2 linked regions of the Homo sapiens genome follow. The protein of the gene in region 2 interacts with the protein of the main gene of each other region in a pairwise test. Each region holds a gene or a part of one and is shown on either strand. Other genes may lie near its edges.

Region 1 (7,299 bases), on a different chromosome or scaffold from region 2:
TTCCTGATATGAAATTATTAGTTCTGTGCTTTAAAGCAAGAACAAATAATGTAGTCAATTATTTATATGTATATGTTAAATAGATGTTCCAGGCCAGGTGCAGTGGCTCACGCCTGTAATCCCAGCACTTTGGGAGGCCGAGGCGGTTGGATCAGCTGAGCTCAGGGGTTTGAAACTAGCCTGGGCAATATGGCAAAACCCCATCTCTACAATACAAAAAATTAAGGGCCGGACATGGTGGCTCACACCTGTAATCCCAGCACTTTGGGAGCCCAAGGCAGGCGGATCACAAGGTCAGGAGTTCGAGACCAGTCAAGCCAATATGGTGAAACCCCATCTCTACTAAAAATACAAAAATTAGCTGGGCATGGTGGTGGGCGCCTGTAGTCCCAGCTACTCGGGAGGCTGAGGCAGGAGAATCACTTGAACCCAGGAGGTGGAGGTTGCAGTGAGCTGAGATCGTGCCACTGCACTGCAGCCTGGGTGACAGAGATTCTGTCTCAAAAAAAAAAAAAAAACAAAAAGAAAAAATGCTGTAGTCCCTCATCATAAGATAGACCAAGGTCCAAGAAATCAATTAGCTGATTTAACTAAGAATATACCTAAATGAAGTTTTGTCCCTCATGAAATGAAAGCTATAAGACAATTTTCATTTAATGGGCTTATACACACAAAAAATGAAATACTATAGATAAAATACTAAGTAGGCATTTAACAAAAACTAGTTCCCTCTCCTTCTTATAAAACCGTAAAGTATTTTAAAAGCAAAGTGCAAAAAGAGAACACATACCTTAAGTAAAACCTCTACTATGCTGGCATGGCCCTCAGAAGCTGCCATATGTAATGGTGTTCGGTCCACTTTGGTTCTGGCATCTCTGCTCACACCAGCTCGCAGCAGTACCTCTGTGGTGGAATAATGACCATACTGTGCTGCTAGATGAAGTGGAGAAGTTCCCAGCTGTACCACAGAAAAAAAAAAAAATCCACATTTACATTATTGTTACTACACTTCTGTTTATATAGTAAACAGATTTTCTTTACATTATCTGTTTACATAGCAACTCAAAACTCAAAAGAAATGCCTAGATTCATGCTTATCACATCCTCTTCATAGACATCTTGAAGAATTCCCAAACACTCTCAATGAAGAAGAAAATCCAGTATTTCCTTTAATTCAAACTTTCTTTCTTCATTATTTTTTATCAGATAAACTGCCTGAACAAAATTAATTTCATTAGAAATTAAGATATAGAGGCCGAACGTGGTGGCTCACGCCTGTAATCCCAGCACTTTGGGAAGCCAAGGCGGGTGGATCACTTGAGGTCAGGAATTCAAGACCACCCTGGCCAACATGGTGAAACCCCATCTCTACTAAAAATACAGAAATTAGCCAGGCGTGGTGGCATGTGCCTGTAATCCCAGCTACTCAGGAGGCTAAGGCAGGAGAATCGCTTGAACCCAGGAGGCAGAGGTTGCAGTGAGCCGAGATCGCGCCACTGCACTCCAGCCTGGGTGACACAGCGAGATTTTGGTCTAAAGAAAAAAAAAAAAAAAAGAAATCAGAGATAGAGTTTGAGAAATTTTTCTGTGTATTAGAATGTATTCCTCATACCAATCACACAAAACTTGCTAAGTTAACTTCGTCTGTAAAATTCATCTCAAATAAATGTAACAGTGTACATTTTTACTTTAAGTGGATCAAAATTGTTTTGTAGGTCTTAAAAAATTCACGTATTGAAACATCTCAGTGATCTTTTTAAAGGGATTTTTTTCAAAGGAAAAATCTTAGGTGCATTTGCCAAAGTTGAATCAGGACAAAACCAAAACAGAGCCCAATTCTCCTGAAATTGGTTCCATGTGGTCTAGTCATTAAATTGACATCCACAATACACAGAGGGAGTACTAAAATGTGAGGGAAGGAAGATTAAGTTCTATCACATGCATTTAAAGGCACAGAAAATCCCTATAACCCTCTGATTACCACATCACTTGATATTCCAAAGAACTAAGATATTTGGACTAAGGAAATTTACACATATAAACAGTTTATTATGTTATGAAGAGATTAAGTGAGATATATGTATAAAGGTCCTTAGTCCTATCTCTCTATCTATCTATCTATAGATAGAGAGATAGATATATTTTTTGTTTGTTTGTTTGTTTAATTGTTGTTTGTTTAATTAGAGACAGGGCCTCACTGTGTTGCCCAGGCTGGGGTGCAATGGATATTCATAGGTACAATTATCACACACTACAGCTTTGAACTGCTGGGCTCAAGCAATCTGTCCACCTCAGCCTCCAGAGTAGCTGGGACTACAGGCACACACCAACAAACCCAGCTAAACCTTACATTTTTAAGAGAAGGTCATCCCAGCAGATCAAAGAAGATCCTTAAACAATCCTTTCTTTCTCCATGCTTTGTCAATTTTTCTTTAACTAGCCTTTTCTATACTCTTAAATTTCAGTATTTAATGAAAATATCTCAACAGCCCATTTAGCAACCAGGAGCTTTGCTCAGTTTGACATTAGGATCTACTTTTTTATTTTTGTCTTCTGAGACTTTCCCTTCTTGGTTATTGACACAAAATATATATACATATATGCAGGGTTTTTTGTTTTTTTCTGAGACAGGGTCTCACTCTGTCACTCAGGCTGGAGTCCAATGGGGTGATCACAGCTCACTGTACCTTCAAACTTCTGAGCTCAAGCGATCCTCCTCCCTCAGCCTCCCGAAGTGCTGGGATTATGGATATGAGCCACCACACCTGGCCATGTAGTTTTTGTAGCTTTTTGGGTTTTTTTTTATTCATTTTTTTAGAGTCAGCTTCTTGCTCTGTCGCCCAGGCTAGAATGCAGTGGAGCTATCGTAGCTCACTGTAACCTCTAACTCCTAGGCTCAAGCAATCCTCCCATCTCAGCCTCCAGAGTAGCTAGGACTACAGGCTGAGCCACCATGCCTGACTAATTTTTTTCTTTTTGTTTGAGATGGGGTCTATGTTGCCCATGCTGGTCTTGAACTTCTGGCCTCAAATAATCTGCCACCTCAGTCTCCCAAAGTGCTGGGATTACAAGCGTAAGCCACTGTGCTCAGCCAATATATGTAGTTTAAGGCAAACACCTGTGAATCAACACCATAGTCTAGAAATAAAACACTGCCAGTAATTTAAAATCTGGCCAGGCGCAGTGGCTCACGCCTGTAATCCCAACACTTTGGGTGGCCAAGGCAGGTGGATTGCCTGAGGTCAGGAGTTCGAGACCAGCCTGGCCAACATGGTGAAACCTCATCTACTAAAAATAAAAAATTAGCTGGGTGTGAGGGTGGGCGCCTGTTATCCCAGCTACTTCGGTGCCTGAGGCAGGAGAATCACTTGAACCCGGGAGGCAGAGGCTTCAGTGAGCCAAGATCATGCCACTGCACTCCAGCCTGGGCAACAGAGCGAAACTCTGTCTCAAAAAAAAAAAAAAAAAAATCTTCCCACATGCCACTCCCTGATCACAAGCCCCTCCCCCAGCCCCAGAGGTAACTAATATTTTGAATTTTGTGACAAGCATTACTTAGTTTTCTTTGTATCACTTATCCCTAAAAAATATACTTTGGTTTTGCCTGTTTTGAGTTTTATTTAAACAGAATTATACTGCATGTATTTCTCTGTGACTTGCCTTCTTTTGCTTGACACTGTATTCATGAGATTCACCATGTTAATAACTGTAAGTATAGCTTACTAATTTTCTGTGTTCTATAATATTCCATTGAATGAGTAAACCACAATTAATTTAACCAATCTACTGATGAACATTTAGATTGTTTCCAGTTTTTGTGTTATTATGAATAATGTTGCTGCTAAATACAGTAGTCTTGTATATGTTTCAGGCACATGAACAAGTCTTCTCTCGGGAATAGTCTTAGAAGCCCAACTGCTACATCATATACTATGCACATCTCCAAATTTACTATGTGCTGCCAAACTGTCTTCCATAACGATTATACCAATTCCATACTTCCACCAAAAATATTTGAGAGTTCCCACCATCTCCTCACCAAGCCTTGGTACTGCTCAACTGTTTTTGCTAATCTGGTGGATATATAATAGTATTTCATGATTTTACTTTGCATTTGCCCCAATTTTAATGTAGTTGAGTATCTTTTCATGTTTATTGATCAAACTTTCTCCTTGGTAAAGCACCATATCCAGTCAGTCTTCTATTGCCTTGTCTTTTTATTGCTAACCCATGGGAATTCCTTATGTATTATGGATACTAATCCTTCTTAAGATCTTTCTGTCTTTGGGAGGCCGAGGCGGGCTGATCACGGGGTCAGGAGTTCAAGACCAGCTGGCCAACATATTGAAACCCCATCTCTACTAAAAATACAAAACATTAGCTGGGCTTGGTGGTGGGTGCCTGTAATCTCAGCTACTTGGGAGGCTGAGGCAGGAGAATCACTTGAACCCGGCAGGCGGAGGTTGCAGTGAGCCGAGACTGAACCATTGCACTCCAGCCCAGGCAACAGTGTGAGACTCCATCTCAAAAAAAAAAAAAAAGATCTTTTTGTCTTGAGGTACTACAGCATCACTATGATATATCTAGATATAGATTAGTTTTTAAATTGATCCTGCTGGAGATTTGTTAGGCTACTCAAATCTGTGGGCTGCCATCTTTCATCAGTTCTGGAAAATTCTCAGCAATTACCTCTTTGAATTATTTCATCCCTATTTTTGCTCTTTTTGTGGATCTATGATCAGATGTTAGACTTTCTCACATGATCCTTCATGATTCCTAACATCTCTTTTACATTTTCTATCTATTTTTATCTGTGACATAGTCTGGATCATTTTTTTTTTCATACCTTTCAGTTTACTAATTTTCTCTTTAGCTGTTTCTAATCTGTTACTAAAATTTTATCTCAAGTCCTTATAGGTCTGCTTCTGTTGACAGTTGTTTTAGCAGATTACTGTCCAAATTGGCATGTGTTCATGTGTTTAGTTATTTCTGACTGCTCACTTTCCTTTGAATTTCATTTGTGGATATGAAGCCTGGGATGAAGGCAGGTTCCTCCAGAGCAGATATTCATTTGCTTCTGTCAAGAGCCTGGGGTAATCCCTAGTCCAAAGATCACTTCAAATTCATTTCTCAGTTTACAGTTTTTTAGACTACACAAGTATTTATGAGTTCAGGCTGCAAGTGTGTAAAAAGGATGCCTTGTGATTCCAAATTCTCACCATCAGATTGTTTTCCTCTCTCCATTTGATGTCTTGGTTCACATCAGCTTATTATCTTTGCAGCATCACGGCAACAGGGGCAAGGGCAGGAGCAGACAGGAGGAGGGACAGGGTATTCCTGCTTTATCCCTACACTGAAGGTGCAGCTCTTTGGGATTCCAGAATTATGAGATAAGATCTCCTATCAGACTTCTCTCCATGAACACTCTCAGGTCTTTAGCTTTAGTACCCCAAGCCAGTGAGGTGGAAAAACCACCAGACAAGTGTGAGTTCACCTAATGTTCTTTAGGGTAAAATTTCTCTGGGTTCTTGCCTTCACTTAGTTTTTCAGGTTGATAATCTCTTTCTTTCTAATTCAGCAGTGTACTTAAGAAGACTTTCTTTAAAATATTTCATCAAAAAGTCTTTATTCTTTAAAGATTTATTTATTCTTTAAAGAAACATTTATGGATAAAATGATATGGTCCCTGGAATTTGCTTTAAAATAATACAGAACAAAAAATAATACAGTAGACAGAGTTATAGAGGAAACAATATTCATCATGATTTGATAATTTTTGAAGTTGGGTAAAGGGTATTACAGGGATATCGTTGATATATATTTGAAATTTTCTATAATAAAAAATTTTGTTTTTTCATGAAAAATGTAAAAAGAGAAAGAAAGGCAAAAACGGCAAAATCAAAAATCTGGAATTTTTAGTTGTTACCAATGGGCAGGTTAATTCAGATTCCTAGCATTCCATATCCACAAGACAATACTTTTTTATTTGCCCCCAGAATTAAAGAGTTATTTTTTTTTGCCTTCCCCACAACTACCTTCTTTCCATAGTTGTCAAGATCTCATTCCCATTCCTTTCTTCCTCTTTCGTCATGTCTGCAACAGTTTTACAAGTAATAATTGAAACATAAACTTGTTTTTCTTTTAGGAGTGACTATTAACACTAACTCCAATCTTTATCAGTATCTTTCTGAATTATAAATTCTACCTGTGCTATTTATAAGGCCTTTAAATTAAATCCCAAGCAGATACATTTTTATATTCATGCCACATTAATGCACTCCACAGTTTGAAAGAAAAACTCTTTGTGGATGAAATATTTGGATAAGGTTGTCCAATATCAAAGAAAATAATATAAACCACTTCTTTTAGGACAGTTATAATTCTAAAATAATAAACACATTTGCAAAAATAATAACTTTTTACCACTTATAAACACAATACTGACTACATTTTTCTCTGCAAAAACTCAAAAATGAGAAGGAAAAAGAACACACAATATTAAAATCATTCTTTACCCAGTCTGTAGTAAAGGGAGCTCCATTTGCCATCAAAATACGAACTTCATCATCTTGACCTGCTCGTGCCGCTTCTAAAAGCTTCTTTCCCAAATCTACCAGGGACATCTAAACAAAACATAGATGAACTGAACATCAAAATCTCCATTTATACACTATGACATGACATTTTCCCTTCCTGTCTTTATTAATAAGTCAGTTCTCAATTATCCCTTCAAAAGAGTGTGCTATGGTTAATTTAAAATTACAGATCATACAAAAGCAATTTATATTTGGATTTTAGAATCCATTTTCCTTTCTCATTAAGTTTTTACTTAGAATAAAAGTAGTTTAAATTCTCCAAATACATCTGGTAAAAGATAGAAGAGGTAAGTAGCAGAGAAAAGCTGGCCTAAATTTTTATTTATTTATTTTTTTCTTGACACAGAGTCTCGGCCTGTCACCCAGGCTGGAGTGCAGTGGCACGATGTTGGCTCACTGCAACCTCCGCCTCCTGGGTTCATGTGATTCTCCTGCCTCAGCCTCCCAAGTAGCTTGGACTACAGGCATGCACCACCACACCCAGCTAATTTTTCTATTTTCAGTAGAGACAGGGTTTCACCATGTTAGCCAGGCTGGTCTCAAACTCCTGACCTCAAATGATCTGCCCGCCTTGGCCTCCCAAAGTGATGGGATTACAGGCATGAGCCACCCCACCCAGCCAAGCTGGTCTAAAATTTAAAACTGGCAACTAATTGTTTTTACTGGAGGGTTTGCAGCAATAAAATTTTTCATAAAAGTAAAT
Region 2 (4,829 bases):
TGTCAAACATTTACTGGTATATCACCGGAGATGACTAAGACCCGTCCCTCTTTCAGGGAGACCATGATCTAGCTGGGGTAATCGGTGCACAGACTAGTCATATACTATAAAACACAGTGACATATGGGCACCAAGAGAGGCATGATCAAAGTACGATGGAGTAGAAAGGGGTACCAGAGAAAGCTTCATGGTTGGCCCAGGAGGTCAGGCAGGACACTGACAAGCAAAAATGATGGGAGGAGAATGAGATGCAGGTTGACAGAATGGAATAAGCAGGGGTTCAGTGACCAAATAAAGGTACAGTGTGGCAGGGAGTGGTAGATAAGGAGGTTGGGTAGGAGGATTGTAGAAAGCCTGGGTCCTAGCTGGACTCTGTGGGCAATGAGAAGAGAAGCCACTCAAGATTTGGGTTGAGGGTCACGTTGGTTTGCCTGGGCTGCTCCTCTAGAAATGCTGATGTGTTAAGACTCAGGATAAGTCCTCACATGCTTTGGTGATCACTTGCTTTGAGATACACTACTACATCAGGGTAGAGTTAAGTCATAATAGTCTCAGCTTCACTGGAGAAGAACCCAGCTCTGCAAGGAAGACAACATGAAACGGAAGCTTTCATCTTAAGATCATGAAGCCTAGAAATTAAAAGGTAGTCAGCTTTTATATTGATAAACATTTTTATTCTAATATTATAGTAATAATTCAAGTACAATTTTCTTTGAAAAGTCAACTCTGTTAAAACAAAACTTGTTAAATATCTTTCATCAAACATAAGCATATTCTTTTCAATCCCCCACAGCAGTCAGAGCCATGTAGCAGAGTTAAGATTTTTTTTAAGCCTACTACATTTTGTTATTGCTAAAAAATCTGAATTAGTTGTCAAGGTTTCAGAGGCAGTCATTAATTAACTTTTGAAAGCTCTATCAGATACTCTGACATAAAATCATGAATCCAGGTATCGGTGTCTGGCAACGATGTGTCCACTAAGTAGACCACTACTTTCCGGTCCCAAGGGTTAGCATTTTCAATGACTGTCTGCACCAGTGCCACCAGAGGTTTCTTCTCCACATGATTTCGAAACACCATAGAAGCCTCCTCAGACCACTGGTTGCACTTCACTCCTAGGAGGAAGAGAGGAAGAAGAGGGAGCAGTGAGGAGTCAAAGGAGCTTTTCTTTGATCCATTATGATGGAAAATTATTTAGTCAATTCCAAAGTAACTTAAGCATCCCAGGTTAGACTTGCCTGAACTGAAAAACGGTTACTGAACAATCTTAAAACACTCCAGCTTATAGTTTTTCTACTCTGAATGGAGTCACTCTGGAAATCTTTAACTAAAAAACAAGTTTCATTTGAGACTTAACATTGTATTATAAAATGAGGTAATAATGACTACTGTACAACCCCCATAAAGTATATGCATATTTAAACTAATAACAGAATAAAATATCAATATCATATTAAATGACATTTCTTTCATTAAAAATTTTTTTTCTGATGGACCAAATATCATAAAAAAAAAGAATTATTGTATGATTCATTTACAGTATAGTTATTTAAAATTATACACAGCATCGTGGGAAAAGCACTGAATTGAAAGTCAACAGACTCAGTTACTATTCCCAGCTTTTCCTCTATCGGGTGGTGTGGTCTTAGGCAAATCAGCTGATCTCACCTATGATAAAAGAACCTGATTGGATCAGATCATGAGAAATCAAGTTAGAGAATTCTAAATTCGATTTTAAAACAAAACTGGGACAAGAAAGTACACATTGGCCGGGCACAGTGGCTCACACCTGTAATCCCAGCACTTTGGGAGGCCAAGGCGGGCAGGTATCTTGAGCTCAGGAGTTCGAGACCAGCCTGGGCAACATAGCCCAGCCCTGTCTCTACAAAAAATACAAAAATTAGCCGGGTGTAATGGCCTGTGCCTATAGTCCCAGCTACTCAGGAGGCTAAGGGAGGAGGATCGCTTGAGCCTGGGAGGTCAGGGCTGCAGTGAGCCGTGACTGCATCACTGTACTCCATCCAGCCTGGGTGACAAAGTGAGACCCTCTCGAAAAAAAAAAAAATATATATATATATATATACATATATATATACATATTTCAAGAAATACAATTAAGTCCACATATACTGGATTACATAAACTGTAAATTATGCCCCAAAGTAATTAAGATATGGAAATTTCAGACATAATTTTGGAAGACTTGCTATCTATATAGCAAATGGGCTAAATTCTTTGATTATTTATTTCCCACAAGAGAAGCCTAGAAATTTCATTTTATCTGCAGCAGCCCTGACAATCTTTGAGCCATGTTATTTAAGAAGAAAAAAGGTAACCCATTGGTAAGGTAAAAGATGATTCCACAGTATGGCTCCCTTTCTTCTAGGATTCAGAAAATTTTGTGCATGGCCATGGTGCACTGATGCAAAGAATGCCCAGGTCAAGGCCAGATGTAATGAAGCAACAACTCACTGGTGTTGTGGGAAGTCAGGAACCCCAAATGGAGGGACCGGCTGAAGCCATGGCAGAAGAACATAAATTGTGAAAATTTCATGGACATTTATTAGTTCCCCAAATTAATACTTTTATAATTTCTTACTCCTGTCTTTACTGCAATCTCTGAACATAAATTGTGAAGATTTCATGGACACTTATCACTTCCCCAATCAATACCCTTGTGATTTCCTATGCCTGTCTTTACTTTAATCTCTTAATCCCATCATCTTTGTAAGATGAGGAGGATGTATGTCACCTCAGGGACCCTGTGATGATTGCGTTAACTGCACAAATTGTTTGTAGAGCATGTGTGTTTGAACAATATGAAATCTGGGCACCTTGAAAAAAGAACAGGATAACAGCAATGTTCAGGGAACAAGAGAGATAACCTTAAACTCTGACTGCCAGTAAGCCGGGCGGAACAGAGCCATATTTCTCTTCTTTCAAAAGCAAATGGGAGAAATATCGCTGAATTCTTTTTCTCAGCAAGGAACATCCCTGAGAAAGAGAATGCGTCCCTGAGGGTAGGCCTCTGAAATGGCCGCTTCGGGTGCGGCCGTCTTTTATGGTCACTGCTGTAGGGATGAAATAAGCCCCAGTCTCCTGTAGTGCTCCCAGGCTTATTAGGACGAGGAAATTCCCACCTAATAAATTTTGGTCAGACCAGTTGTCTGCTCTCAAACCCTGTCTCCTGATAAGATGTTATCAATGACAACGTGTGCCCGAAACTTCATTAGCACTTTTAATTTCGCCCCGGTCCTGTGGTCCTGTGATCTCGCCCTGCCTCCATTTGCCTTGTGATATCTTATTACCTTGTGAAGCATGTGATCTCTGCGACCCACACCCTATTTGTACACTCTCTCCCCTTTTGAAAATCACTAATAGAAACTTGCTGATTTTACGGCTTAGGGGGCATCACGGAACTTGCGGACATGTGATGTCTCCCCCGGACACCCAGCTTTAAAATTTCTCTCTTTTGTACTCTGTCCCTTTATTTCTCAGACCGGCCGACACTTAGGGAAAATAGAAAAGAACCTACATGAAATATCGGGGGTGAATTTTACCCGATATCTGGCTGAAATTTCCCCCAATACACTGGGAACCTTGAAAGGGTGGGCATCCAGTGATCCCATTTGTGAGCGAGTAAGGGGTAATCCCAAGGTCCCTGGAGAATCCTTAAAGCATTCCAGTTTAAACACTCAGGGCATTCCCATGGGTTCCACTTAGATTCCACAGAGCTCCTTTACATCTAGAGATATTCCTAAATATGTCAAAGGGCTTGGCTAGGTGTGAACCAAGTCTACCAAAGTGATGACTCCAATGGCCATGTCACAACCAGTGACTTCCATGAAACTTCTAGTCTACCTCGCTTCTCTCTAGTGGATGCCTATGTTGGCCCAAGAGAGACATACTCTCCGCCACATATAGTTTAATAGTTCCAGTTCATATGTTTTCAATTAATTATAAAATGGAGGTCCTCCCTTCAAAATGGATAATGTGATACCCAGGAAGATTTTGTGACTTAGGAGCAAGTCAAAAGGAAGAAAGAAGGCTTGGCAGAGGTGAGCCTAGAAAAGGAACTCAGGACATGGATGGGACCCAACAGCAATGCTGTTTCAGATGTAAGTGTACAAAGAAACTTTCATGTATTTGGACTATGAGTTTTAGTTCAAAAGGCAATTTCATATTCACTTTTTCATCTGATCCACATATTAGTTCAGTCACATAGACAGGATAGGAATTTACTGGTAATTTTATAAATAATCATGGGGTAGGTTTAGAAGTTAAATGACTTGAATCTCAGCCTTTTGACTTCAAAAACCACACTTTTCATGGAGAAGGAAGTATACAGTGAAGAAAGGCACACACTGAAGAGGCAGAGTGCTGAGTTTAAGGCTGTGGTGTGGGATCTTGGACAAGATATTTAACTTCACTAAGCTGCTATTCCCTGATGTGTATAACAGTTATAGTAACAGTACCTAAACCTCCTAGCATGGGGAGAGTTCAATGAAGTAAAGCAGTTGGTAGAACTTCTGCCTACCGATCTGGCATGTAAAGAGCTTAGAAGTTGCTACTGCCTCCTAATAAGAAACAAAAAGCTGAACAAACAGAAAATCAACAACTACTCCTAGGTCCATCAGAGAAGGAAGGTCACAGGGCAATTCACTGTCCCCAAAACCAGAGAGACAGACAGGAAGATACTGAGAGTCAAAGCGTACTAGAGCAGAAACCAATGAGCAGAGGCCTGGAAGCCAGAGGAGGGAAACCTAAACTGTAACTGACAAATTGCTAGGGGTACATGTAAATAAGTCTGAGAGTTAAAAACTCCAGGG

What was found.
Region 1: the proteins of TDRD7 (region 2) and GABPB1 interact in binary tests that used the Homo sapiens proteins (3 or more experiments, as listed by UniProt).

What each region holds. Positions count from the first base shown.
Region 1 is NC_000015.10:50,303,176-50,310,474, forward strand, and holds part of GABPB1 (GA-binding protein subunit beta-1 isoform beta 2), read right to left. Parts: intron 6,624-7,299; coding exon 6,516-6,623; intron 959-6,515; coding exon 791-958; intron 1-790.
Region 2 is NC_000009.12:97,491,949-97,496,777, reverse strand, and holds the end of TDRD7 (tudor domain-containing protein 7), read right to left. Parts: intron 1,116-4,829; coding exon 895-1,115; 3' UTR 653-894; downstream 1-652. UniProt on the Homo sapiens protein: Component of specific cytoplasmic RNA granules involved in post-transcriptional regulation of specific genes: probably acts by binding to specific mRNAs and regulating their translation.